7 linked regions of the Homo sapiens genome follow. The protein of the gene in region 1 purifies or fractionates together with the protein of each later gene. This does not show direct contact. Each region holds a gene or a part of one and is shown on either strand. Other genes may lie near its edges.

Evidence for each region.
Region 2: the proteins of PHF8 (region 1) and SMC2 purify together in Homo sapiens (affinity purification with mass spectrometry, with the first as the bait; one study listed by BioGRID). This does not show direct contact.
Region 3: the proteins of PHF8 (region 1) and TRIP12 purify together in Homo sapiens (affinity purification with mass spectrometry; one large-scale study listed by BioGRID and IntAct). This does not show direct contact.
Region 4: the proteins of PHF8 (region 1) and RBPJ purify together in Homo sapiens (affinity purification with western blotting; one large-scale study listed by BioGRID and IntAct). This does not show direct contact.
Region 5: the proteins of PHF8 (region 1) and RNF138 purify together in Homo sapiens (affinity purification with mass spectrometry; one large-scale study listed by BioGRID and IntAct). This does not show direct contact.
Region 6: the proteins of PHF8 (region 1) and CASP14 purify together in Homo sapiens (affinity purification with mass spectrometry; one large-scale study listed by BioGRID and IntAct). This does not show direct contact.
Region 7: the proteins of PHF8 (region 1) and LSM14B purify together in Homo sapiens (affinity purification with mass spectrometry; one large-scale study listed by BioGRID and IntAct). This does not show direct contact.

What each region holds. Positions count from the first base shown.
Region 1 is NC_000023.11:53,935,944-53,939,973, reverse strand, and holds the end of PHF8 (histone lysine demethylase PHF8), read left to right. Parts: intron 1-727; coding exon 728-816; 3' UTR 817-1,914; coding exon of another isoform or gene 1,915-1,993; 3' UTR 1,994-3,294; downstream 3,295-4,030. UniProt on the Homo sapiens protein: Histone lysine demethylase with selectivity for the di- and monomethyl states that plays a key role cell cycle progression, rDNA transcription and brain development.
Region 2 is NC_000009.12:104,100,729-104,104,758, reverse strand, and holds part of SMC2 (structural maintenance of chromosomes protein 2), read right to left. Parts: intron 2,800-4,030; coding exon 2,566-2,799; intron 2,336-2,565; coding exon 2,186-2,335; intron 1-2,185. UniProt on the Homo sapiens protein: Central component of the condensin complex, a complex required for conversion of interphase chromatin into mitotic-like condense chromosomes.
Region 3 is NC_000002.12:229,855,840-229,859,869, reverse strand, and holds part of TRIP12 (E3 ubiquitin-protein ligase TRIP12), read left to right. Parts: intron 1-295; coding exon 296-1,098; intron 1,099-4,030. UniProt on the Homo sapiens protein: E3 ubiquitin-protein ligase involved in ubiquitin fusion degradation (UFD) pathway and regulation of DNA repair.
Region 4 is NC_000004.12:26,421,651-26,425,680, forward strand, and holds part of RBPJ (recombining binding protein suppressor of hairless), read left to right. Parts: intron 1-2,691; coding exon 2,692-2,829; intron 2,830-2,980; coding exon 2,981-3,093; intron 3,094-4,030. UniProt on the Homo sapiens protein: Transcriptional regulator that plays a central role in Notch signaling, a signaling pathway involved in cell-cell communication that regulates a broad spectrum of cell-fate determinations.
Region 5 is NC_000018.10:32,111,970-32,115,999, forward strand, and holds part of RNF138 (E3 ubiquitin-protein ligase RNF138), read left to right. Parts: intron 1-1,775; coding exon 1,776-1,891; intron 1,892-4,030. UniProt on the Homo sapiens protein: E3 ubiquitin-protein ligase involved in DNA damage response by promoting DNA resection and homologous recombination.
Region 6 is NC_000019.10:15,047,994-15,052,589, reverse strand, and holds the start of CASP14 (caspase-14 precursor), read right to left. Parts: upstream 3,111-4,596; 5' UTR 2,945-3,110; intron 385-2,944; 5' UTR 339-384; coding exon 312-338; intron 1-311. UniProt on the Homo sapiens protein: Non-apoptotic caspase involved in epidermal differentiation. Is the predominant caspase in epidermal stratum corneum. Seems to play a role in keratinocyte differentiation and is required for cornification.
Region 7 is NC_000020.11:62,128,911-62,132,940, forward strand, and holds part of LSM14B (protein LSM14 homolog B), read left to right. Parts: intron 1-14; coding exon of another isoform or gene 15-122; intron 123-874; coding exon 875-1,042; intron 1,043-1,308; coding exon 1,309-1,386; intron 1,387-1,619; coding exon 1,620-1,781; intron 1,782-2,445; coding exon 2,446-2,596; intron 2,597-3,445; exon of another isoform or gene 3,446-4,030. UniProt on the Homo sapiens protein: mRNA-binding protein essential for female fertility, oocyte meiotic maturation and the assembly of MARDO (mitochondria-associated ribonucleoprotein domain), a membraneless compartment that stores maternal mRNAs in oocytes.

The sequences.
Region 1 (4,030 bases):
GCCAGAAGGAGGTAGAGGGTGGGCTAGAGATGGGAACTCTAGGGAGGAGGCACATATACAAGTTCAGGCAGGCAGGAAGAGTACCTGGGGCTCTGCCAGAGGGAATGGAGAGGAAGGAGATGAACTGATCAAATATGGAGGCAGTCAAATAGGACATGGGAGGGGATTTAATGTGGGGAGACAGAGACAACAAAGAGTTAGAGGACTGAAGCCTTCCTTTCCCTCACTTTGGTCCTCAAAGCCCAGTCCCTAGAGTACGCAGCTCAAGGGCATGGAGGTTGGTGTGATGTTGAAGGCTGATGAAGATGAGAGTTTCTAATGAAGCAAGGCCCTAGGGATGGCAACTTCAGGGACACTGAGCTCTAATCACTAACCAGGCACTTGTCCAGTCCTGGTGGGTAGGATAAGAGGGTATGGAAGTACATTTACCTCCCTGCAGGATCTTGGAAGGAAAATGATTGGGACCAGAGTAATCAGTGGAGAAAAAGAACTAGACAAACTGTAATCAGGGAGTCTTGCTGCTACAGGAGGTCATAGGAGGAAGAGTCAAAGCATGTGGTGTTGGTTGGAAGTAGTTAAGGAGGGCTTCCTGCCCAATATGGTCTAAGGATGGAGAAACTTTGTGGGTAGAGAAACAGGAAGGGGAGGTGGCCTGAGGGCAGTTGGTGCCAGATTTGATGTTGAAGCCCTTGCCAAAGCCCTTGCTTACTTTTCCCTTCCCCCACAGGAAAGCGTCCCAAAAAGGGCCTGGCCACAGCAAAGCAGAGACTCGGCCGTATCCTGAAAATCCACAGAAATGGCAAACTACTTCTGTGAGCCCTCCTGTGTCCCACCCCTCACCCCTTTACCCCCATTGCCTTCTCCATTGTCAACTCTTGGGGCACTCCTGGATCCTATCTGCCCTGGACAAGGTGCTGAGGTGCATTGTCCTGCTTTCTTGGGACTTACCAAAGGCACGGACCCCTCCACCGACTCCTTCTAGTTCCCTTCCCCACTTTCACTAGAGCATCCTGCCTGCCTTCTCCACTGAGGAGCAGGTAAATGGGAGAGGTTTCCAGCTGACTAGAACCCTCTTTTCTACTCGTCCAAACCACTCCCGTCACCTGCCTTGTCTGTTCTTTATTCTTCATCCCCCGCTAGAGCTGGAAGGCAGGATGAGGAGAGGTATGAAGGAGCCTGAGCCATGAAGTGGGAAGCCCAGTGCTTGACACTTTCTGCAACTCTAGCCCTATATCCAGAAGCCTGCCCACCTCCACCCATTCTGTTTGCCCCATTTCCCCAGTCCAGTGGACATGCCCCACCTCCAGACTTGCTCATGGGAGAAGGCTGTGGTCTCTGCCCCCTCTTGCCAAATGCTTCATGGAAATGAAGAGGAAGGCCTAGAGCCTCCTTCCTGCCCCACTGTGGGCCATTTCCAGAAGTGGCCTAGAAATGCCAACTTCACTTACCTTTCAAAAGAAAGGTGATTCCTATCACTTGTCAAGGTAGGGAGAGGTCAGATGCCCAAGCCTTTGACCACGGTTTTGTAGCCTGTTGGAGGAAGCTACTTTTAGCTGGCTACACATGAGGCCACTTGTTTTAGGGTGAGCTCCAGGGATTTGCCTGGATTTTGAAATCATGTAGAACATTATCCACGTGGCTGTGGCTGTGGCTGTGGCTGGGCCCTGGCAGGTGGAAAACCATCTCCCAGAAACCTGAAAGCACCTGCCAATGACGCAGATAACCCTGGCCCTACAGCCTGCTTGCTCCGCCTATACCACAGAGCACAGCCTGGACATTATGGAGGGTGTGGCGGGACGGCCCACACCTGGGTCCTCCATCGGGAACTTTTCATGCTTCTTTCTCCACCTGAGGTCTTGGTCTGAAGAAGACCTCAGGACTCACATCTTCACTCCTGGGCCTTTGCACTTCCAGACGACAGGTCATCGTTCAAGCAGAATGCAGACAGGCCATTCACGAGCCCAAGTTGAAGAGAAGAGACGCCCATCCGTGAAGGAGCAGACCATCCATCCGATCCTCCCCTTCCCCTGTCCTTCCTTCGTGGATTGTCTCCATTGTCCAGACAGTGCCCCCACCTCCCACCGCCTTGCCTCACTGGCAATCTGGACTCGATGGAGAACATCCCCCCACCTCCATTTGGCACTACCCAAGTGGAGTGTACCCTTGCCCTTTCCACCTGTACCACCCACTCCAACCTCACCCCAGCTTGCCCAATGCTTCTGGGGAATTTAATAGCTACCATGCAGGCCACAGGGAATTTGTGAGGCTTCTTTTGTCATCTTTGTATCTCCAGTTTGTCTTTCTTTTCTCCATAGCCCTGCCTCTACTTTCCTTCCTTGGAATCAGGGGTTCCTTTAGCCCATTTGCTTTCTCTACCTTGGGGACCCCAGGGGCCAAGCAGTTCTCCATCTAGTCACACCAAAGGCAAAAAGCCTGGCTACCTCCCCCCTAGCACGTGAGTCCCTACTCCCCTCCCCTCTGTTTCTGCCCAGCTTTGCTTATTTTGGGGATTTCAAGGCAGCAGAGGGTAGTGAGGGGAGAGCAGGAGAAGCCTCTGTCCTGTATAGGCAACTGCCTGACTATGCGGTGACTGCTGTAACCAAGATCAGGTCCCCAGCCCTTTTGTCCATTAACACCCCTTCTTGATCTTTCAAAGGCAGCTAATTGCTAGCAAATCCCCCCGATTCCGGCCTTTTCCCTCTATTTCTTTGTTAGAAGTTTTCTGTGGAGCTGAAACCCAGCCTCTGTTTGACTGGGTTTCATTTAGCTTAGTTGGGTTCTTAGAGCCCCCTGTTTGTTGTTTTGTGTTGTTTCCAATGAAAAGCAAGTTTACCCTCAGAGTTATGCTTTTCCAAAGAGGCTGATGTCTTTGTTTTTGTTTTTTTTAATGTTTCAGGTTCTAAGTGAAGTGAGTTGGGGAGGGGTTGGGAGTGTTAGTAATCAAGGTTTAGAACACCATGAGATAGTTACCCCTGATCTCCAGTCCCTAGCTGGGGGCTGGACAGGGGGAAGGGAGAGAGGATTTCTATTCACCTTTAATATATTTTTACAAAAAAAGCAAACAATTTAAAAACAAGCCCACCGCTTCTGTACATGTCTAAATATATTTTTAGAAGTGGGTAGGATTGTGAATTTCTGATGCAGGGCCTTTTTATAAATAGGTTAGGGTAGCATCATTCAGACTTCTCTGTTGTTTTTGTCCCTGTCTTTTTCTTATGTTGTGTTACTAATGTAATTTATATTTTTTTTAGATCCTCCCTTTCCTATAGAGATAAAAGTGATTTATCTTGGCAATTGCTTTGCTTGGCATTCTTTTTTTTTGTGATGAGGGTGGTGGTGTGGTGCAGGGTCTGGGAGTGCTGCCTTCTCCTTGTACTCTTTGTCTCTCCCTCAGCAAGTTGTCAGGCATTTCCCTGGTGCTCAGCCTTATGCTTGAAGTGGGAAGGGTATTCCCACCCTCAGGAGGGACACGCTTCACACACCTGAAGTAGATCATCAGAAGCAGACTGAGCAGAAAAGAAAGGGTGCAATAATTCAAAGGGGCCTAACAAGTTCAATGGGAGGGCTTTCCAGAGACTGCTTTTTCAAGTGTGTCCTCTTTCTGTGAATGTGGGATTTTTTTTTTCTTTCCCTCTCTCTTCCATGCACTTGTTGTGCAATCTGGACTTGATTACTGTGCTTAGGGCCAGTACATGGGTTAGAAGAATATAATTATCAGAGCTTGTTTTCACGATTATCGCACTTGTTTTCTTGTGCCAGGCACTGCTCTTAATACTTTATTGATTCATTTCATCCTCACCAACACCCTCATCCTGCCAGCGAAGAAACAAAGTAACCTTCCTGTATCATACATGAAAATTCTGGGACCAACCTGGTTCCAGAATGTGTATTCTTACCACTCTGTTCTACCACTTCTCACTGATAAACACTACCATTATATTAAGTGCCTTTTGGGTGCCAGGCATTGGGCTAGGGATTTTACTTAGGGATATCTCATTTAATCCTCACTGAAAAACCCCATGAGGATATT
Region 2 (4,030 bases), on another chromosome or scaffold:
AGAAGTCTGTGGGCATAATAAAAGGACTAGTTTTGCTAGAGGGGATACCTAGATTGGAGGATAAACTACAGGACAACTCCTTAGGTGGCATTAGACTAAGCCAGTTCTTCCCTCCCTGGCTTACAGTTCTCAAGAATAACTGTAGAATGTGCTGATAATGCAATATCCCAAGAAAGGGAGGCAATGGTTAGAAGAGCCAGGACTGTTCTATCTGCTCCTCCAGCTGCCCTAAAACATAATCTCAATGCTTCAGCCCAGTGTCTCATGTTACTCTAGGGTATAAACTCAGAGCAGGCTGTTTTCTGGGGTCCCTCAGCTGCTGTGCAAGTTGAGCACGTGCAAATAAAATTCAAACCACCCTAGGCAGCTTTTCTGAGCCTTGGGAGATCAGCTTGCAATGAATCCTAGACTTCTGTTTTCCCTTGTTGCCTATCAATAAGTAATAAATCCATTTCACATAAAATGTTGTGTATGAATGTGTTATGTCTGCTGGCTTCAGACAAGTTGGTAATCTGCACACAATAAACCTGCTTCATAGAGTTTAGGGAGTTAAGCCTGCTTATAGATTTGGAGGGCATCAACATATAGATGATATTTAGAGTTACAGAGCTGGATGAGACCACCTATGGCGTGAGAGTTTATAAAAGATATCAGAGTGCTAGCCTTAGGGCATACTAACATTAAGAGATCTAGAAGAATAAGGGGATACAGAAAAGAAGGATGAAAAAGGAGCAATCAGTGTGTGAAGCTTAAGGACATGACAAGACTAAAGAAAAATGAACCCAAAACAAGGCAGGTCCACATGTTTAGAGCTTTACAAACCTCACCTAAAAAAAAAAAGTAATTGATGAATTGATTTCAGTTCTTGGATGCCACAACACAGACTGCTACAACACGTTCATATCGCTTCAAAATTTTGTCTAAATTTTCCTCCACTGTTTCTTAATTCAACAATGTATTTCTCTGCAAAAATATCTAACAGGGCAGTATAAAGAAATTATTTTCACAAAGTTAATTTTTTTTCAGTGAAAAGGCAAATGTATACCTTCACTGGGACAACAGAATCACCCTCAAAAGAAATGCCATAAGCTCCAAAAACACACCTACTCATCTACCTACATGTGAGACTATATACTTGACTCTTCTGTTACCATGGATGACCTATTCCTAGTTCTCGCGAAGGCGACCTCCTCTATACACTAGTTCCTATCCTACTTGCAGCTACTAAGGGGCCCTATTTTAACAACTCTCCCATCTCTCTCTCCTGAATCACAAATGACGACTTTTCTACTGGATCTTTTCTGTCAATATAGAATTTATTTATCCCATGTCAAATCAAGCCAAAAACTCTCTTCTGTATTACCCTCCAGTTACCTCCCTATTTATCCCTCTTTCAGAAAACTTCTCAAAAAGTTATCTATATTCACTTTTCTTTTTTCTGCCTTCATTCTGTGAGAGTATGAACACAATCTAATCAGGTACTCATGGCCACTTCTCCTTGAAACATCTTTTTTACCTGGACTCCAGGACAATTTACTGGCCTAATTTTCCTCACACTACTCAATCTCTTTTGAATGTTGAACTATCCTAACATTCAAACGTTGAAAGTATCCCAGGGCTCCAACCTTCTTATATGAACTTACAGCCTTGATCATTTTATCTAGTCTCATGGATTTAAATAACACCTATACATTGATGATGCCTCCAAATCTGTATTTTTGCCTGGATTCAATATTCATATAGTTAAGTACCTAATCAACATCACTACTCAAGATGTCTAACAGGCTCCTCAAGCCTATTATATTCATACTGTATTTCTTAAGCTTATCAAACCCGTTCTTCCTATTCTCCACTTACTTCAGTGGCTATCCAACTTAAAATCCCAAATTGTACTCTTTTTCCCCTACACTCCTAATCCCCTTCCCTGCTTTTTCTCCACATCAGTTATCACTCTATAACATGTTACATGTTTTATTTATTTTCTTTATTATCATTTCCCCCAATGGAATGAAGGTCCACAAGGCAAGGATTTTTGACCATTTGGTCCAGTTGTAACCACAGCCCAAACAACTGTACTTAGCTTATAGAAGACACTCACTAAATATTCATGGAATAGATAAATGTACACTAATGAGACTATATACTTGTCTACAAGTGGCACTAGTGGCACATTAAGCTCACTTACCTCAACCATATTTTTTTCCAGCTCTTTGCGTTTGCTTTCCTCACATGCCAGATTTTTCTTCTTGAGATCAAATGCGCTTTGAGATTTAGTATTAACTCGCTGAGCCTCTGCAAGAGCATCTTCTAAAGATCGAAGTATACCTCCAGTTTCCTATAACAAAATGCAGTCAATTCAATCACTTATGTAAAATTTGTTCACGCTGTCATTTTATTGTATGAGTTCTGTATCAAACACTTTTTTATAAGTTATTTCATTATCTTACTATAAGATTAACAAATCAATACGGAAGACAATGCCCAATGAATCCTAAATAGTTACTATATATAATTTAGTACGTTTTTCACAGAGTATATTATCGATTCTTATACATATGTTCAGACCTTATCTTTTCTTTTTTCCAATTCTTCTATTTCATGATTAAGTGCTTTTATTTTTTTATCATTCTCAGACAATTCTTCCTGAAGCTTTATAACTTTATCTTGCATTTCTTTTAATTCCTCAGCTGAGCGTACTTTGGTATCTTCAGCCAGCAAAAACTGATAAGCAATATATAAACGACTCAAATGTTCTATTTCTCTCATTACTTTTTGGTACTCCAAGTAGGACGATCTTTCCTGAAAGAGAAATCACAAAAAAAGAATAACTCAAAATTGTATTAAAAAAAAAATTCAATTATGCAAGATGAAACAAATTTCTCATTACATAATAGATTTTGTCCTGTATTAAACAATTATAGCATTTTAAATTGTAGGAAACTTTACGTAACATCAGAAGTCAGGACTTTTAGATAGCATTCTACCATCTCTAGTGAATCTTATTTGGCTATTTCTTCTAACACACACTTGGGTAGTTGAGCTTAACAAAGAAATATGGACATAAGGTTCATAAGCTTACACACCCACCATGTTACACTATTACATGGATTCTGTAGTAGTAGTATCAAGATGCCTACTCTAATATACTTTGAAGCACTACTACAAGCACTCGCTTACATCATTACTAAACACGACTCCCATAAGGACCTACTGGGACCAGACAAAGTAATAACTAAAATCCTTAATTTATACATAAAAAACAAATTCAGAATGATTAAATGATCTGTCCATGTTGTTAGATTTAGAAAGCAATTGTGGCAAAATGAAGTCTAGGACCTAAGTTTAAATTCCTGATCTAGTGTTTTCTACTAAATCATACATACAAAAAGGGTATCTTCAAGATTACAATTTTTCCAGTAAAATTTATACTACTATATGGATTCACAAGACAGCTCTGAGTAGTACCAAATTTCAATGAGCATTTAATAAATTCCTAAAAGGAGATAGCTTTAAAAACGTCGTTTGGCTGGGCACAGTGGCTCACTCCTGTAATCCCAGCACTTTGCGAGGCCGAGGCAGGTGGATCACTTGAGCCCAGGAGTTCAAGACCAGCCTGAGAAACAATGAGAAACCCTGTCTCTACAAAAAAATAAACTAGCAGGGTGTGGTGGCATGCACCTGTAGTCCCAGCTACTCAGAAGGCTAAGGTGGGAGGATCCCTTGAGACCGGGAGGTGGAGGCTGCAGTGAGCTGTGATGACACCACTGCACTCCAGCCTGGGCGACAGTGAGACTAGTCTCAAGAAAAAGAAAACGTAGCTCATAAATGCATTTTTTGATGACATATTGTGCCATGTCTTTTGACAGTCAGGAGCTGCAAAGATTACAGAGACAATCCAATCCTCTGTTTCAATACCTTTTGCTTACAAAATACCTTGATAGCAATAATTATAGTGATAGCCCCTGTTATCCTGGAAATTGTTCTCAATGAGGGTGTCTAAGAGTGCCTTATCTTTAAGAAATGTTGTTCC
Region 3 (4,030 bases), on another chromosome or scaffold:
AAGTGTTGTTTTTCTTGTAATCTTAATTCTTGTTTTGTGATTACGAGTGTTAGTGTCAGTAATCTTTGGGCTAAAGAACACCCTTATCTTTTAATCAGATATTTTAGTATCCAAAGTCACATCTGCTTTTGTTTTGTTCTTTTATTTCGTTTTACAGATTTGAACCTTCTGAAAACCTATGTTTAATACTGGACTTAGTAGGAACATATTCATACTTTATTTTTTGAAAGCATTATATATGACAGTTGTAATTATGACAGGCTGATATTAACTGTTTTCTTATCTAACCTCTTAGAAGCTGCAGTTCATCATCTGCTGTGATAGTTCCACAACCAGAGGATCCAGACAGAGCCAATACTTCAGAAAGACAAAAAACGGGGCAGGTGCCTAAGAAAGACAATTCTCGAGGAGTGAAGCGCAGTGCTAGTCCAGACTACAACAGGACCAATTCTCCTAGCTCTGCAAAAAAACCAAAAGCACTTCAGCATACTGAATCTCCCTCAGAAACAAATAAGCCACATAGTAAGTCAAAGAAGAGACATTTAGACCAGGAGCAACAACTGAAATCTGCACAATCACCATCAACAAGCAAGGCTCATACCAGGAAGAGTGGGGCCACTGGCGGTTCACGGAGTCAGAAAAGAAAAAGGACAGAGAGTTCTTGTGTAAAGAGTGGCTCCGGGTCTGAATCAACTGGTGCAGAAGAGAGATCTGCGAAACCTACCAAGCTGGCTTCAAAATCAGCCACCTCAGCCAAAGCTGGGTGTAGCACCATCACTGATTCTTCTTCTGCTGCCTCTACTTCCTCCTCGTCTTCTGCTGTAGCCTCGGCCTCCTCCACTGTACCACCAGGTGCCAGAGTGAAACAAGGAAAAGATCAGAACAAGGCCAGGCGTTCCCGTTCAGCGTCCAGTCCCAGCCCCAGAAGAAGTAGCAGGGAAAAGGAACAGAGTAAAACTGGTGGCTCTTCAAAATTTGATTGGGCTGCTCGTTTCAGCCCTAAAGTTAGCCTTCCTAAAACAAAACTGTCTCTTCCAGGGTCTTCTAAGTCAGAGACATCAAAACCTGGACCTTCTGGATTACAGGCCAAATTAGCAAGTAAGTTTACAAAAAGGTATTTTTCTTTAATTAAAGAAAGTTTCTCTTGGTTTGTCAAAAGCAATTATGCTTTAAAGTTAAGGGTTTTTTCCCCCCAGTCTTAGATAATCTTAGATGTATTACTGTCTGTGTAATTAAGTACATAACAGCATGTAGTAAGTGCTACTACATTTAGTTTTGTTGAGACAGGTAAGGAATACTACCTTCCTATTATTACGAAACCATCACATTTTAGTGTCTGTGTCTTTATTGGTCCTCGCGGCATCTCCTACTTCACTGATTTCCTAATATCAGGATGGGACATAAAGTTGGATTTTCTTCTATACCACATACAAAATTATCATTTAGTTAGGAGTTCTTTTTAGTTATGAGTTGCCATGATCAGAGATCAAATATATATATGTTTTTTTAGATGGAGTCTCACTCTGTCGCCTAGGCTGGAGTGCAGTGGCGCAGTCTCGGCTCACTGCAACCTCCGCCTCCTGGGCTTAAGCAATCCTCTTGCCTTGGCCTCCAGAGTAACTGGGATTACAAGTGTGCACACCATGCCTGGGTAATTTTTGTGTTTTTAGTAGAGATGGGGTTTCACTGTGTTGGCCACGTTGGTCTCAAACTTCTGACCTCAAGTGATCTGCTCACCTCGGCCTCCCAAAGTGTGGGGATTACAGGTGTGAGCTACCATGCCTGGCCAAATATATTTTTTTATATGAGATATTCTTGATGTGTAGATACAGTGAATTAAGTTATTACTATAAATATACCTCAATGTAAATTAAACTTTTTCATATGTAATATCTCACAGTCTTTTAAGGAGTTTTGTCTAAAGATGAATACTACTTATGTTTCACTACTCTTATATACACTACTCTGTGTCCTAAGTGAGTAAGAATATTGCTCTCTAAAAGTTTACAGTGGAGTAGAAAGAATTTGTGTTTTGAGAATACATTCAAGCAAAGAAACAGAAAGTAGATGGAAGAAACATAGCGTTATGTGCATTCCTTCATGAGTCAGTTTTGGAGATATCCAGGAACTCTTCTCCCTCTCTCTTTACCAAAAGACTTCTTCAGGGAACCAGCTGCTCATCTGGGGAATGCTAGTGTCTTTCTTTTCTTTCCTCCCTTCTTTTTTTTTTTTGAGACAGAGTCTCACTCTGTTGCCCAGGATGGAGTAGTGGTGTGAGTGGTACGATCTTGGCTCACTGCAACCTCCACCTCCTGGGTTCAAGCAATTCTCCTGTCTCAGCCTCTCCTGAGTAGCTGAGATTACAAGTGTGCGCCATCACACCCAGCTAATTTTTGTATTTTTAGTAGAGAGGGAGTTTCACCATGTTGGTCAGGCTGGTCTTGAACTGGGACAAGTGATCCACCTGTCCCAGCCTCCCAAAGTGTTGGGATTATAAGTGTGAGCCACTGTGCCCAGGCTTCTTTCCTTATTTCTATTTCAGAAACCTATAAAGGACAAATAGGATAATAAAGCACTTATCTCTACAATTTTTAAAAGCATTTTAATTTTATAATACCTAATTAGGAAGCTTGCTTTTAAGCATCTTTTCTTCTCTGATGGATTTTAGATCTACATTTGGGTAGGGCTATAATGTTTTCTTGGTTTAAAAAGATTGTATATAGTGTCTACTAGCATTCTTGTCAAAGTATAGCTCATATTGAATCAGCCTAACTTAAAATTGAATCAGAACTATTAGCTCTGTTTAATTTAACACTGCAGTCTAAAACTACTTTTGGTTGATTCACATATTACCTGAAATGACAATACTATTAATAGTAGGTACTATATAAAAAATTTTATGTTTAACCTGTATGATAGGTTATTGTGAAGTAACATATTTTACTTTTAGATTGAACTTTGTTCTGTTTTGGTATTTTAAATATGCAGAACATCTGTATAAAATGTTTTAAGTTTAAAGGATTAAGATAGGCTAGATCAGTATCTTGAAGTGAGAAGGAAAAAAAGGTCCAAGTTAAAAGGACAACCAACTATTTGTCCTTCCAATGCTTTATTGATAATTGGAGTTACATATGTCAGCTTTTATGCTGCCTTTCCTCCCTGTGTTTTGTGTCTGTCAGTCCTGCTATGTAATATTCACAGCCAGTGAGCCAGGTTGAGTTTACAGCAAGCTGCTTAGGATTCACTTCCCCTTCTGCCTTCCAGTCTGCCTCACTTGAAGAACTCATCTCTTATGTGTAGGAGGGTTCTAGGGCCAGGCAATAGCAGATTGTACTTGAGTGTCATGGCCTTGGTCCTTTGTAGAGATCAGCTTTCTTTTCTTTATATAGTCTGTTAACTTGATTTTTAAAAGAAAACCCAACTCTACCAGTGGCTAATCAGTGGGATTTTCTCCTTGGTGTTTCAATCAGGAAACACCAAGAGTTTTGGCAGTGTCATTTTGCTGCTGGTTTGATAAAACCAATCCAGATAATTCCATTAAGCCTGCTCAGCACATAGTCACAAACTAATTTAGTATTTTAAAACTCATTTCACCATTATTTCATTCACTTGCACAGTATCTGTGTTCTGTTGTCACTATTAAATCACTTTTCCGTTTTCACTGCCACTATCCCAGTTCTGATCTCTCATCGTAGCCTAAGCTGTTGAAACAAGAGAATGGAACCAGCGTTTGTGTAGCATAAAATAAGTACCAGGTATTTTACATATGCAGTTACATATTCTTTTAAAAAAAATGGTGCTTTAGGATACACTTTTTTTTTTTTTTTTCTGAGACAGAGTCTTGCTGTATTACCCAGGCTGGAGTGTGTGTAGTGGCGCAGTTGGCTCACCGCAACCTCTACCTCCCAGGTTCGGGCAATTCTCGTGCCTCAGCCTCCCAAGTAGCTGGGATTACAGGCGCATGCCACCATGCTTGGCTAATTTTTGTATTTAAGAGACAGGGTTTCGCCATATTGACCAGGCTGGTCTC
Region 4 (4,030 bases), on another chromosome or scaffold:
ACAGGTTTTATCAATTCTGTTTCATTATCTCCATCACCACCAACACCTCTTCGTCTTCTAATTGCTGGAGTATTTTAATGTAAATCTCATCCTATCCTTTCAACCAAAATTTCTGCAATAGTGACTAATACATGCCCTTTTTTTTGAAACATCATTATACGTAACAGTTGACAGCAGCTCTTAAGTGTCATCTAATATCCTATTTCATGTACAGATTTATCAGATTGACCCAGAATGTCTTTTTATAGTTTTTTTGCTTTGTTTTGTTTTACAGTGGTTTGTTCAAACATGGATTCAGATAAGGTCCACACATTTTAGTCTGTAATAGTTTCTTCTCACCCTCTCTCACCTTTGTTTTCCTTCTATGTCATTTATTTGTTGAAGAAACTGGATCATTTTTCCTGTTGTGGAATTCCATATTCTGGGTTTGGCTGATTATATGTTTCTCTGTCTCTCTTACTTTCCATGAACTGGTGGTTAGACATAAAGACTTTCAGAACTGATTGGTAAGATATACATTTATTTCCATTGGATTGGAAGTCATAATATCTGATTATCCCCTTTTTTTTTTTTGGTCATGTTGAGATTGATTATAGTAGTTCAGCTGTTGTAAGTCTATTCCACCCATAAAGTTCCTCAGCAAACTTTAACCTAATGGTTTTAATAGTCATTGATGATGTTTAAATCCATTTCATTAAATGCTGCAAAATGGTGATATTCTAATTTTTTAAATTCTAACTTCTGCATTCGTTAGCTGGAGTTTTTTCTACAAAGAGGGACTTTGCCATATCAGCTATTTGCTTCAATTGTAATATGTAATGAAAAGGCAGGATTAGGTGCTTGTTTACTCATTTGCAGAATAATAACATTCCTTGAAAGTGACCAGTGGGGTTTTAGGGTTTTTGTTTTGTTTGCTTTCTTTTCATTTTGTTTTATTATGAGATCATGGTTTTTGTTGTGGTTGTTGTTATTGTTGTTGTTTTGTATTGGTTATATTTTAGTCCACTCAGTCCACTAATATCACTTAGTTTTTATTACGGAAAAATTTCAAACACTCTCAAGTAGACAGAGTTGCACCATACAGTGAAACCTCTTATGTTCATTCTCTAACGTCAACAGTGATCTTAACATTCAACCAATCTTATCTTCATCTATACCTGTACTCCAGCCCCACTTTCTTCTGCCCTTATTTTAGTTTGATGCATATCCAATCAGTGTTCAAATTTAAAATGGTCTAAAATATTTTAAAAATCAGATTGCTTGAATCAAAATTCAGATCTACCACTTAGTACAGTTTATATTGTGATATGTCCTTGAGTATAATCTATGGACACCCCCTCAACTCTTGCAATTTATTTAAGTAAGTTGAAACATTTAGTCACTAGAGATTTCCACGTACTAGATTTTGCTGATTTCATTTATTTGGTATAGTTTAATGTATTTTCTGTAAATTGGTAGAGTCAAAAAGAAATAGAGCGTGGGCCTAGTTGGAAAGACAGATTTCATTCAGTACTATTGCAATAGGGGAAAATAGAACCAAGTTCCATTTCAGAATACAACAAAGACACTTGGGGATGAAGCAGAGTGAGAGGGTCAATGGATGGAAACTTTCTAAAAGGAGACATCAAAGGTAGAAGGTTTCTTTCTGACCTGACTTAGGATTCCTGCTAAAGGCAGGCCAAGGTGATCATAGATCCAGAGTGGGAGATAGTTTAGGAGGATTCTTACTATATATAACTGAGCTAAACAGACTGATGACGGGGCTCAAGGACAAATACTAGTTGATTGCTCAGAGCAGCCTGCTTAAAAGTATGGTCAAGGAGAGAATCTTTAGTGTAGAATGGTGATCAGATTTAAGTTTGTTGTCCTTTGGTTCTTGTTTTCTTTCTGAAAAGCAAGACCTGCTTCAAAGGTGGTGGTGTGCTCTCTTGCACTAGGAGGTATATTATGTCTTGTATTCAGGCTATTTGCATTTCAGATTACACAGTTTTATGTAACTGCTTTAACTTTGTGTTTGTACTGAATATTAGTTTCTTGATGGCAGAGAACATATTTCACTTTCAGAATGTTTTTCTGCTTACATGGATTTATTTTCAAGAAATTTCATACAATACTTTATTTAGAAGAAAGCAGAATTTTCTGAAATCACAGTATGCAGAGGCATTTACCATCAACTCTGACAAACATCCTTCTGGTCCCTTTTCTATGCATGTATTCTGTGGAATTGGATGCAAACACATATTAAAAATATATACATTTGCCTAATGGAACCACAGCATACAGAGTATTTTATAGTCTGCTTTTCCATTCAGTGATATTCCAGGAAAATATTTTCTTATCAGTGTGTTTAGATACACATCCTTTCAATAGGTCATCATTTAAATTTCTACTGTCTAACATTATTTTAAAAGTAAGTTTTTCTCTAATAATCAGCACCACATTAAACATACTGTGTAGCTTTCACTTTAAAATTATTTTTATGGACATTTGATATCATTAGCTTGACATTATTAATAACAGTTACCTTGACTTTTTGATATCATCTGTACTGTCTTGGAAAGTGAAAATATTTGTCAAACTGTTAAATGATAAGAAAGAATAATTATACACTGCCAAGCAGAATTTCCTTCTTTTGCTCCCTCCCCACCTTCTGCTCCAATCACATAAATAAGAGCTGTTTTTTCTTTGCAGTATGCATTGCCTCAGGAACAAAGGTGGCTCTGTTTAATCGACTACGATCCCAGACAGTTAGTACCAGATACTTGCATGTAGAAGGAGGTAATTTTCATGCCAGTTCACAGCAGTGGGGAGCCTTTTTTATTCATCTCTGTGAGTATAAAAGTGTGCATTTAATGTTTTTAGTGTGAAATTGTTAAAATCTTTTGATGAGATACATGGATATATTAAGTTTTGTCATTTGCCTAATCATAAAATAAATTTAAAAAGATGACAATTTGATTTATTTTTCCACCTACTGCAGTGGATGATGATGAATCAGAAGGAGAAGAATTCACAGTCCGAGATGGCTACATCCATTATGGACAAACAGTCAAACTTGTGTGCTCAGTTACTGGCATGGCACTCCCAAGATTGGTATGGCTCTACTTTTGCTTTAGTGATAATGTGAAGTAAAAATTAATTTCTTAAACAGGAAAATCACAACATTCAAATGGAAAAACACACCTCAGTTTTATGCTTTTTAATTTTAAAAGGTATGTTAGTAATCAGTGCTGTTTATAATTGACAGTTATGCTCTACCTTATTTCAGAAATGCTTTAAGGTAATAGCCAGTTTTTACAAGTACATTCTTAATGATTTTTTCTTAAATGATTTCCAATATATTTTGGTGGCAATTTCCTTTTTGGCTGTTTATCTGAAGATGTTCAGTAGAGGGCACTATAAATTACATTTCTTTTCTTTACTAATGCGGATAAACCGTATTCATTTTTTTGTGGTACCTGCCATATCCCAATGTAGGACCAAGTTTGCAAACAGAAGACATTCTTATTTCTTTTGAAATATAAGCGTAATTTTTGTTAGCTTACTCTCTCACAAGAAGATAGATTTATTAAAACTGAAATAAAATTGGTATTTCTAACTGGGAGCAGGGCATAGGATTTAGGGCTTTTGTTCAATAGAAGACATTGAAACTCGGCCACGCATGGTGACTCACACCTGCAATCCCAGCACTTCAACAGGTGAAGGCAGGAGAAGGAGAAGTGACTAGCCCTGGCATCACTTGAGCTCAGGAGTTCGAGACTAGTCCTGGCAACATGGTCAGACCGTCTTTACCACTGACCCCGCCCCCCCAAAAAAAAAATTAGCCAGGCATGGTGGTGCACACCTGTAGTCTCAAGCTTAAGTGGGAGGATCACTTGAGCTCGGGAGGTCAAGGCTGCAATGAGCGGTGATCGTACCACTGGACTTTAGCCTGGGCAACAGAATGAGATCCTATCTCAACAACCACAGAAAAGGAGATCTTGAAATTGTAAAAACTACTTTTGTTAGTAAAATGAAAACAAAAGTCCTC
Region 5 (4,030 bases), on another chromosome or scaffold:
AAATTCTTATTTGAATTTTCTTGGTTGGTGTTTTTTTTTTTTTTGAAAAGATGAAAGGTATTTAGACTGGGAATTGGATAGAAAAGGCCAAAAAAAGCTGTGGTCATAGATCTTACTAGATTATAAACTTACTGAGAAATGAGACTGAAAAAAAAATCACTGAATTTCATAATACTTAGCGTGGCATTTTTCTAAAAGTAATTTCTCATTGATTACTTGCTAAAGTAACTAAATTAGCAAGCTGGCATTTAGCTCATTTAAACCCCATTCTGGTACAAATTCACCCCTTAAGTTTTTCTCATGGTAGCATCATTATTGCAGCTTTACACATAGAAATGTTACTAGTTTGGGCACATGGATTTATGTAGTTTAAGGAACTCTCTAGCTCCTCACTTTACTTATGTATTTATGTATGTATTTAAGAAATCACAAGGGCCGGGCATGGTGGCTCATGCCTGTAATCCCAGCACTTATGGGAGGCCAAGGTGGGTGGATGACCTGAGGTCAGGAGTTCGAGACCAGCCTGACCAACATGGTGAAACCCCGTCTCTACTAAAAATAAAAAATCAGCCAGGTGTGGTGGCGCATGCCTATAATCCCAGCTACTTGGGAGGCTGAGGCAGAATTGTTTGAACCTGGGCGGCAGAGGTTGCGGTGAGCTGAGATTGCGCCATTGCACTCCAAACTGGGCAACAAGAGCGAAACGCTGTCTAAAAAAAAAGAAGAAGAAAGAAATCACAAAATATTTGGTTAATTTTAAGGAACATGTAGGAAAATCAGGTGTTAACAAATAACCAGCATTAATTCTCTAATCTGGATTTTATTCTATCATTTGGAGAAGGAATAAAATAGAGAGGGGTGGTTAGGCTTTGAGTATATCCATGTGTCTATAGATTTATCACCGACATTTTTTCTAATAGCTAATGAATTCAGTGAGCAAAGCTGGTTGCTATTTCATGCATTCACACAAGTCAGATCTGCTTTTACATCTTTTTGAAGGAAGTGTTTAACTGACAGGGCAATGACGTGAAGCTGGAAAACACACTCGAGAGATTCTGGCTATTCCTCTCAGTGAGAAACTGAAAAATGTTCCAAGTATTCCTGGCAACTTAATTTTTTTTGAGACAGGGTCTCACTTTGTCACCCAGGCTGGAGTACAGTGGCACAATCTCGGCTCACTGCAGCTTTGACTTCCCAGGCTCTAAGCAATCCTCCTGCCTCAGCCCCACAGGTAGCTGAGATTACACCTGGCTAATTTTTGTATTTTTTGTATAAACAGGATTTTGCCATATTGCTCAGGCTGGTCTTGAACCCCTGAACTCAAGCAGTCCACCCATCCCAGCCTCCCAAAAGGCTGGGATTACAAGCGCGAGCCACTGCACCCAGCCAGGAACTTAATTTTTTTTTAAGTGCTTTCTAACTCTGCCAGGCTGCAGAAGTTAAATAATAAGACATGCCCAATAGCATCTGGCATCCTCTTAGTGCTTTTAATTTTTTTGTCTACTGCTGGTAGTGTCTTTTCAAGTGTGAAGTTATTTGCTGTTTTTTGCAGTGAATTTATAGACAGATGGACTCTTCTCCATCTCTACATTTAATGAACAGAAATGTATTATCTATTCTTAACTCCTACTTAAGGATGAAATCATTTACTTTAAAAAAATACAACTCCTGTTTAAATGGAGTATTTAGTTACTTTTATTTTTTCCTCTCTTTACACTATTTCAAATCTTACGAGTTCTATTTTAAATTAAAAGTCACATTTTAATAATTTACAGATTAAATTCTATCGCATGAGACATCATTACAAATCTTGTAAGAAGTATCAGGATGAATATGGTGTTTCTTCTATCATTCCAAACTTTCAGATCTCTCAAGATTCAGTAGGGAACAGGTAAGCAATACTTATTCCTAAATACAGAATTTTCATAATTGAAATGGAAATTGTTTTGGGAACTATATGATAAGGTATTTGGGGGGATGTGTGTGTGTGTATGTGCACATGTGTTTTTAAAGTGAATTGCCAAGTATCAGAACTACAGCATTTGCCTTAAAATCTGTTTGGCACACGTAAGCTCTCATCTGGGAGATGACTTCATGAACTTCAGCTTATGTTATTTAAAATCATTCTAAGAATTTTCATTTTTTTGAGTAAAAAATAAGTTGGAGATTTTTCTCTTACTGATTTTGCAACTGAAATGATTTGAAAAACTATAGAAAATCCTTTTCAGTAATGTATTTGCAAACTACAACCTGTTTTTTCTTTGCTATCTAAGGGATAGACTTAGAGTTTGAAATTTTTATTCTAAAATGTCATGTAAAAATGAAACCAGGTGCAGTGCAGTTCTGTTTGAGTCTCATTTCTTTTAAACAACTAGATTTGGATTGATTTGTATCTTATCTCAGATTCATGTACATTAAACATTTTTATGAAATGTATTTTACACAGAAAAATGGCCAAAATGCACTTGTGGTTTAAAAAAATAATGATTAACATCCAGTTACCTATTAACCCAGGTCAAGAAAGAACATTTTTCAAAACTTCAGGATCTCTATGTGAGCTCCTGCCCATTTGAACCGTACACTCCTAGATGCAACCACTATTCTCTTATTTGGATTATTCATTCCTTTGATTTTCTTTATGTATCATCACCCATGCATGTATCCCTAAACAATGCATTGTTAATTTTGAAAACTTCAGTAGTAAGCACATACGTAACTGTAAGGAAAGACAATATTGCCACTATTATAGAAAGGTTCCCAGGAGACAGTATGTTAAGCAGTCTCTAATATTTTATTTTAGTAGCCTTTCATTTTACATATTGCTAATTTTTAGTAACTTAACCGCCCTTAAGCACTTCATGTTGATCATACTACATTAGGCGTCTTCCCTACTCAGTTGAAATTTCTGGTAAAAACCTTTAGTGATTGTCTGGTAAAGATCTGCAGTAATTTTCTGATTGCCTAGTCTGAAAAAACTTCAGGTTCTCATTTTACTTGACTTGTTAGTGTCAAGGAAATTTGTTTGAAAGTTGTTGCTCTTATAGTTTTTTTTTAGTCCTTCTGGGTTTCTTCATTTCTATGTTTTTCTTATTGTTGTACTTCTACTTTATTGTAATTTCCTATCTGCTTTTTTACCCAATAGATTGTTCTTAAGTGAGGGGATGGTGTTTGTCTTGTTGAGCATATCTCCAGCTTTTAGTAAAGTTCTTAGTATACATGATTGTAATCACGCTTTTAATGACCAAATTTTCTTATCAGGAGACAGGCCTTCCTCCCCCTTATTTCTTAGATCCACTTGGTCATAGACACTTGATTCCTAATAGCAATATTCCTCATCTGTACTTTTATTTTATCTTGTCACTTCCCTAGCTCAGGCCCTCATCATCTCTCACTCGAACTATGATAATAGCCTTTTTAGCTGGTAGTTATCCTCTAATCTGTTTTACATTCTATCGCCAAAGTAATATTAATGAAGTATAAAAGACAAAATTCTGGCTGGGCGCGGTGGCTCACACCTGTAATCCCAGCATTTTGGGAGGCCAAGGTGGGCAGATCACTTGAGGTCAGGAGTTCAAGACCAGCCTGGCCATCATGGTGAAACCTTGTCTCTACTAAAAATACAAAAATTAGCTGGACGTGGTGGCGCGTGCCTATAGTCCCAGCTACTTGGGAGGCTTAGGCAGGAGAATCACTTGACCCTAGGAAACGGAGGTTGCAGTGAGCCGAGAGCACATCACTGCACTCTAGCCTGGGCGACAGAGTCAGACTCCGTCTAAAACACACACACACGCACACACACGCACGCACGCACACACACACTTCCTTATTCCAAAGCCCTTTCTGATCTGGCCCTTTCCTCTCTTTTTATAGCCTCTTTCTTGGTTATCCATCGTTGCATCACATGCCTTAGCCATGTTGATTTATTTGTTCCCTCTCTTTGCCATTCTTGAAAAACAGTATGACTGTGGTTAAAAATGTGGGCTTGGAGCCGGAATGCTGGGTTCAAATTTCAGATGTCACTTACTAATTG
Region 6 (4,596 bases), on another chromosome or scaffold:
TGGTAAGAACTTCATCTTTTAAAAAATCAACATGAAATTGTTTATTGCAGGACTTCTCAGAACCTTTAATGTGTTGAGAAGAACTTGATCTTTGGAGACAGAGGTAGCTGTGTTTGACTGCCCCCACCACCCAACCCAACTTCGGTTCCATCTCTGAGTCTTTTTTTGCTGTTTGATTGACTACAAAGTACCTCCTAGCTCTGAGTTCAGATCATGATTTTTTCAGTCCCTCCACTCTTTCCAAAACATTAAAATCCTCACCTTCCTTCTCCCCAGATGATCACCCTCCCCTCAACCTGCACCCAGCCTACCTCTTCCAAAGACCGCGGATTGCTCATTTCTCCTTTGGTTGTGAGTCCCGGCTCTCAGCACCCTTGTCTGATCCTTGGAGTCAAGAGAAGATAGGTTAAAGTTCTCTAAAGGGAGGCCGAGGGGCTCAGGGGACAAACTGGCTTATGTATCTGGATTTTTGAGACCAAATAGCACTCAAGTGGTGGGGATTTGGTCTGTGGACAGATCTGGGCAATAGATGATAATCCATGAAGTAGTAATATATCACCCCTAGAATGACAATTTCACGATGTCTTCCATTTCTGGATGTCTTCTTCAGAACTGCTGAGCCTACCCCACAATGTCCCCCACTCCGCCCCCAAAAACTTCCTGTGTCTCCCGTGGGTCATTCACCAGCTTCTGGTGGACTGAACTTCCCCTGAAAGCCCTGGAATGAGGAGCAGGGCAAGTGACCCATGTGTTTGCCTCTTCTACCTAGGAGATGACGGGCTGGGGAAGCCATCTCAAAGAGATGCCTTGGAGGAGTGTTTAAAAGGAGAATGTCATCGAAGTGGGGAATGCAACTTTGATATTATCTCACTGGGTCTCCAATACGAAGGGGTCAATCCACCTCCCTTGCTCTTCCTTGAGTCTGAATGTCTGTCCACATTCTCCATTCTCATCTCTGAGTCCTGTTCTCTTCTCTGGCTGCACAGACAGACTTTTGTCATACTCTTGGCATTTCCCCATCTCTTTGCCTTTTCCTACACTTTCTCCTCAGTAGGGAATGCTTTTTGCTTTTTTTTTTTTTTTTTTTGAGACAGAATCTCACTCTGTCACCCAGGCTGTCTGGGGTGCAGTGGCATGATCTCGGCTCACTGCAACCTCTGCCTCCTGGGTTCAAGTGATGATCCTGCCTCAGCCTCCCGAGTAGCTGGGACTACAGGTATGCGCCACCATGCCTGGCTAATTTTATTGTATTTTTAGTAGAGACGGGATTTCACTGTGTTAGCCAGGATGGTCTTGATCTCCTGACCTCATGATCTGCCCACCTCAGCCTCCCAAAGTGCTGGGATTATAGATGTGAGCCACTGCACCCCACCGGGAATGCTTTTTTTTTTTCTATCTAGATCCTTCTCTGACAATTTTGGTGGCATAATATCTGCTATGCCTTCCCCCATCAACCATCCATTCATCTATGTTTTTATCCATCTATCTATCCAGTCACCCATCAATTCATTCATCTATCCATCTACCATCTATCCATTAATTCATCATCTATCCATCCATTCACCCACTCACCCTTCCATCTATTCATCTGTCCATCTACTTATCTATTAATCAGTCATCCCATCCACCCATCCTTCCACCCGCACATCTATCTAGTCATCCATCAATCCAATTTAACATCCATCCTTTTATTCATCAACCCATCCACCAATTTATCTTTCCACTTACCTATCTATCCACTCATCCATCCATCCATCCACCCACTCACACATCTATTCATCCGTCTGTCTACCCATCTATTAATCAGTCATCCCATATACCCATTCATTCTTCCATCAACCCATTTATCTACCCATCCATCTATCTATCCATCCACTTATTCATCCAACCACTCATTCATTCATCCATCCATCCATCCATTCATCCATTATCTCTCTCTGTCTTCCATCCCTCCATCTATTCTATCTTCCAACTATCCCTCCATCTAGCCCTCCTTCTATCCATTCCTTCATCCATCATCTCTATCTTCCATCTATCCATCCACCTATTTACTTATCCATCTACCCACCCACCCATCCATCCATCCATCCATCAATCCATCCACCCACCCACCCACCTACCCAGCAAATATTTTCTGGGTATCTATTATGTGTTATGCACTTAGAATCCATTAAGTAAGACAGACATGCTCCCTGACTTTCTGTCCTTCTGTAGCTCTAGTCTGTGACAGAAATGAATATTAAATCTCTCTCTCTCTCTCTCTCTCTCACACACACACACTCACACACACACACAGCAAGTGCTGTGACGAAAGAGGAGCCAAAGATTGTGAGGGAGGAAGTGGAAGGAGCATAGCCCTGGAGCCAGAACCGAATCCTGCCTCAGTCCCTTCCCAGCTGTGTGACCTTCGGCATCTCACTCTCCTCTCTGAGACTCGATTTTCCCATCCGCAAAGGACCTGGGGAGAGCTCTAGGTGCTTAACAGCAATGGTGACCCAGGTAGGTTTTAGGATCCCTCTTGACCTCCTGGAACTTTCCTCTTCCTTCTCTGGACTCTCACAGCTCTGCTTGCTCCTACTTGAATTACAGCAGTGTTTTTGATTCTTACTCTCATGGCTGAACTGGCAGCTCAGTTTTCAGGACTGAAAGCCTGACTTCATTATCTCTGTCTCCATCATGGCCAACAGTGTGGCAGGGAGCACAGAGGTGGTGTTGGAGAGAATTTGCTGAGTAAACAAATAAGAAAAAAATGAACAGATGAAAAGAAAGAGGGGATGGATGGAAATTTCTTCCATTCTGCCAAAACTGGCCAGAGCATTAATTCATGAAGGGAGAGGGAGCGTATGTGTGTATGTGCGTGTGTGTGTGTGTGTGTGTGTGTGTGTGTGTGTGAGAGAGAGAGAGAGAGAGAGAGAGAGAGGCTAATATCCACCAAATCACTTACCAACTCTAGAGGCAGCTGTTCCTCAAGGCCAAGTTCAATCTCACTACTCTCCTAGTTGCCAATACTGAGCTGGGCACCGAGGAGGAGTCAGGCCCACGTACTGATCTTGGAGAAGGGGCTGACAGTGTGGAATCTCCCGGGGTTTCTCCTGAGAAGCCTGGTCTATGAATCGGGTGGCACAATCACCTGGCCCTTTATTGTCGGTGAGTTTTCTGTCACTCAAGAAACCTCATGACACACCCTTGGCACACAGCTGTGGTGTGGAAATGGAGCCAACGCCAATGGGATGAGTGATCGCAAGGCTGAGGGGACTCCCTCTGGCAAAGGTGGCCTAGGCAGAGAGTCTAAATGAGTCAGATGTCTGTGCCAGCCCAGCCACAACCTCTCCCAACCCCCATCCCATAGCCAGCCCATCTGGTTATTACCATCATCATTATGCCTAGTTTATTCATCTCACCTTCCACTGTGTAGATAACACCGACTTCACTTAGTTATTATCTCATCGAGTCTTCAAGAGTCTAGACAGATCAGTATTTTTGCTCCCATTTTGCAGATGGAGAAACTGAGGCTCATAGAGGTGAAATGACTGCCCAAGGTCAGCAATTGGCACAGTTGGCATTCAACCCTATAAGGGGTGAGGTGTGGTGGGTCACGTCTGTAGTCCCAGCGCTTTGGGAGGCCAAGGCAGGAGGATCGCTTGAGGTGAGGAGTTTGAGACCAGCCGGGGCATAGTGAGACCCTGTCACTAAAATAATAATAATAATAAAAATGATGGCATATACCTATAGTCCTAGCTACTCAGGAGGCTGAGGTAGGAGGCTGGCTTGAGCCTAGGAGTTTGAGGCTGCAGCGAGCTAAGATTGTGCCTCTGCACTCCAGCCTGGGTGACAGAGCAAGACTCTGTCTTAAATATAAAAACAAACAAACAACCCCTAAAATGTTCCAGCCCAGTTGCCTTAACTGATGCATCATGATGATTCCTCTCTTCCTCCTCCTCTTATTATTTTTCAGCCATTTTGTTTCATTTTATTTCTTATGTTAATAGTGAAACCAAAGGCGAACCTGATTAAGCCCTCCAGACTTAATCTGCCTTGCGTTTAATTGCTTACTTACTTTTAATTGCTTACTTATAGTTGATCTTAAAAGCGCCACTAGCAAGTCACGTAGCCAAATAATGCATAACTAAACTCCCACTGGCTTCCTTACAGATAACATTTTTGTCTGTGGGACACTATAGTAATGGGTGCTTAAAGTTGTTTTTCAGGAACTAGGTAGGAGGCAGCTCTTGTTTAGTTTAAGCCAGTGGAGATCACTGACCCTTCAACTGCACCTATGTGGGTAGCTGATATCAGAGGGCCGTAAACTCCACCTTCAGATCATGCTAAATGCTATTTTTTGCACAAATGTCCTATCTAAAGCCATGTAGCTCAACCATGCTTGCTCAGAAATTCTGATTACCTCACCTTCCCTACCTGCCAGTCACCTTTCTCCGTACTTTAGATCACCCCGTTTTCTATCCCATAAGCACCCTCAAACCCTATTTTTGGGGAGGAGAATTTGAGACCTGTTTTACCACCTCGTCGCTTAATTGCCTCATGAACGAACTCTTCCTCTTCTGCAAAATCTGTCATTACATTGATTGGCTTGCTGCA
Region 7 (4,030 bases), on another chromosome or scaffold:
TACCCTGTGGTTAGGGTGCCTTTTCTGTTTCAGATCTCTGTTCACTTACACCCAGTCCCACATTGTCCTGTTTAGAGTCCCTACAGGTCCTGGAACCTTGGAAAGGGAGGAGATGGAGAGAGGTGGGTGGTGCTTCCCATTTTCCTCCTGATTCAGAGGGCCTGGTTTCTGAGGGTTCATCCCCTGTGCGTGGGCCTCGGACTGCAGTTTCATAGGCATAGCCCCTTGCCAAAGGCTACCTAGGAGCCCTTTGTGTCTTCATGATGAGCCTTTGCCCTTGAGAGAAGTGTAGGCTGCTACGTCTCGGAAGTCAGCTCCTGCTTCATCATTTTTAGTTTTATTGTGCCTTAAGTGGAAATGACAGTGTTGTAGAATTTAACTTCAGAATTTGTTCACTGCATTTTCTAGAAAATCCCAGGCTGGGCTGGTTCTTCTCCAGTGTGGACCAGAATGAAACAAATTCTCAGATCCTGAATTCATCAGGATCTTGGGGCTGCTGAGCTCCTTTGGGATTGGAGCTTGTGTGGTTTTAAGAAAGCTGTTTCCACACTTCTGGGGAGGTGCCTGTTTGTAGGCACGGTGTTTTTCCTGTCCTTGAGGTTCCCTAACTTGGGAAGCTCAGGGCTTTGGGAGTGGGGAGTCCAAAGATGAACTGGCCTTGGTGCTGCCCAGTGACTCTTGGCCTTCTTTTGCTGCCTGGGCTAGCCTCAGAGGGAATGGCCCAGTCTGGGGGTGCTTTGCCTGGATTTGATAGAACATCTAGGCAGTTGCCCTCCTTTCCTTCCTGACATGCCAGCAGAAGAGAAATGCCTGGAGATATAAGGCTTGCTTCTTTTCTCTCTGTTTTTAAACCCTCCTCCCCTCCTCAATTCAGGAGCTGGTTTTCCATCCATCCCAGTCGGCAAGAGCCCCATGGTGGAGCAGGCTGTGCAGACTGGTTCTGCTGACAACCTGAATGCTAAAAAGCTGTTACCTGGCAAGGGCACCACAGGGACGCAGCTCAACGGTCGTCAGGCCCAGCCGAGCAGCAAGACGGCCAGCGGTACTTGAACACATCATTTCCTGGAGTTTGCTTGATGTTCTAAAAGTGGCACACTACTTCCTGGGCTATTTTTTTTTTTTTAATTAAAAAAATACTACTCCCCCATCCTAAGCCCCATGTGCTTTTGCAGGGCAGGCCTGTGCAGCAGCCTCCTGCGGTGCCGCCCTGGCCGCGTGCCCCATGGTGGTGGGGCCTGCTTCCACAGCTGGGTTCTGGCTTCCGGCTGCTATAGGAGCTTTGCCTTACTCTTCCCTTTTGCGCCGTAGATGTAGTCCAGCCGGCAGCTGTGCAAGCTCAAGGGCAGGTGAATGACGAGAACAGAAGACCTCAGAGGAGGCGATCAGGTAACACCTGTTGCCACTTGATTTCTGGGGACCACGAGTGATCAGGCTGAGCTCTGCTTGCCCTCCTGCCTGCTTCTCTGGTTGACGGTTTCAGGGGTGCTGGTGTGAAGTCGCTGCTTGTGTGCTCTGTTCCTTCTGTGGCCTTGGGGGTGTGCCTGGAAATTCCTTGTGAGGTGTTTGAGATCACTGGGTTGGTGACCTACTTCAGCCAGGGCTGTCCTTTGTCCTCACAGGAAACAGGCGAACAAGGAATCGCTCCAGAGGGCAAAACCGTCCAACTAACGTTAAGGAAAACACAATCAAATTTGAGGGTGACTTTGATTTCGAGAGTGCAAATGCCCAGTTCAACCGAGAGGAGCTTGACAAAGAATTTAAGAAGAAACTGAATTTTAAAGGTTTGGCTCATTATATGAAAATTATTCTCTGCACAGGAGTACCCCTAGAGAGTGTTAGGAGGAGATGCCTGGCCGGGTGTGGTGGTTCACGCCTGTAATCTCAGCACTTTGGGAGGCTGAGGTGGGTGGATCACCTGAGGTCAGGAGTTCAACACCAGCCTGGCCAACACAATGAAACCCCATCTGTACTAAAAATCCAAAAATTAGCCAGGCGTGGTGGTGGGCGCCTGTAATCCCAGCTACTCGGGAGACTGAGACAGGAGAATCGTTTGAACCCAGGAGGTGGAGGTTGCAGTGGGAGTGAGCCAAGATTGCGCCACTGCACTCCAGCCGGGCGATAGAGCAAGACTCTGTCTCAAGGAAAAGGAAGAGATGCCTAGAGGAACCGGGGATGCCAGGCGGATGGTGACCGGCAGTGAGGAATTAATGAAGTGAGGTGCTGGGAGGTGTGAAAATGGGTGGGATAAGGTGCAGACTGCACAGCCCAGACGGCAGAACGAGACCTGTACTTAGAAGGTAGAAGAAGAGATTTCTGCTTTGCACAAGGCATAGTTGATGTCTTAGCTTGAGGGTGGCTTCCGAGTGAGCCCGGAGGGACCACCCTGCTAAAAGGCTGTGCGCTCTGCCCCTCCTCCATCTCCACGTGTTCTGCTTCTTTTTGTAGATGACAAGGCTGAGAAGGGGGAAGAGAAGGACCTGGCTGTGGTGACCCAGAGTGCCGAAGCGCCCGCTGAGGAAGACCTTCTGGGGCCCAACTGCTACTATGACAAATCCAAGTCGTTCTTCGACAACATCTCTTCTGAACTCAAGACCAGGTGAGAGGCTGAATGAATGAGGGGAGGACAGTCCTCCAATCTAGAAAGGACAGGGCTGAGGGCTCTCAACCTGAGGGCAGAGCTGGACTCTGAGGCTCAGGGTAGCTGTTCTAGGGTCCTGCTTGCGTTTCTGCATGATGGGTGCCGGAGTCCCAGCAGGTTGCGTGTGGGAAGCCTCTTGGGGATCCCGACCCGAGGAGTTGGCTGAGGTCGAGCCTGTTTCCTCTTGGCTTTGCTGCCCTGTCCCCACAAAGGCTGGGCTGCACCGCCCCCCCCGGCAGACCCGTGTCCACATTCAGCATACCTCACGGTGCTCTGCTTGCTGGTCCCGCTGGCCTGGCAGCCTGAGGTCCTTGCTTAGCAGCCTGAGGTATGGCTAGAACGTGCTCACACTGGCTTTCCTTCACTTCATTGTTTGAGGCCAGGGACCATGTGGTGTGTTTTATTTTTCACACCTAACAGCTGGTCAGAAGTCCCGCGAAGCACCCTAGGGAGTGGGTGGCATCTACAGTGTGGGCCTGGCTTGGAAACTTGGGCCCATTTGTCCTGCAGATTGAGCGCCAGACATGCCGCGGGGCGTTGAGGGGGCCTCAGAAGGCAGGCTGGAGAGCGCCACCTCTTCAGGTTCATGTTCTGCCAGGGGAAAAATAGAACAGCATGTCGTGAAGGCCAGGCAGTGAGGGCGATGGGATGGGGCTGTAACTCGATGGGAAGTGGATGATCAGTTCTCACAGGCAGAGCAGGCTGCGCAGATGAGTGCGGGAAGTGCTTCCAGACAGGCCGAGTCTGGGGGATGGGTTCCTGTAGGGTTTTGTAGGGCATGGCAGTGACTTTGGCTTTTGTTCCAAGTGCCGCGGGAAGCCATCAGAGGGTTTTGTGCTGAAGCGTGGTGCGGTCTGATGTTTTACGGCGTCCTTGGTGAGAGTGGTTGGACGGTGGGCAAGTGTGGCTGCTGACTGGCCAGTTAGGGGCCAGTGCTGCAGCACAGGTGGCTTGGAACCAGGCAGTGGTGGTGACAGAGGGAAGGAGTAGAGTCTAAATGTGTCTTGAAGGTGGCGCTAACAGAATTGGCCAACATGACAAGAGAAGAGTCCAGAATGACTCCTAAGTCTTTTGGCCTGGGCGGCTGATGGGTGGAGTTGCTGTTTCTTTGAACACGGAAGTCTGTGGGAGCAGCAGGTTTCCGGCTGAAGAGGAGCTCAGGGTGGGTGTGCTGCTGGAGCTGTTGTCTGCGTCGGTAGGAGTGCTGGGTGGGAGTGCTGGGTGCACAGTTGGATGTGGGAGATAGTCTCCCACCAGCAGCTTGTTTGGGTGGCATGAGTGTCCATGCTGTATCCCTGTCTTTCAAACTCCCAAAGCAGAAGCATCACATTCCAGGGAACTTGTTCCATCTATCCTAGCCTCCTCCTTGTCTAGGAGGGTCCACTTCATGGT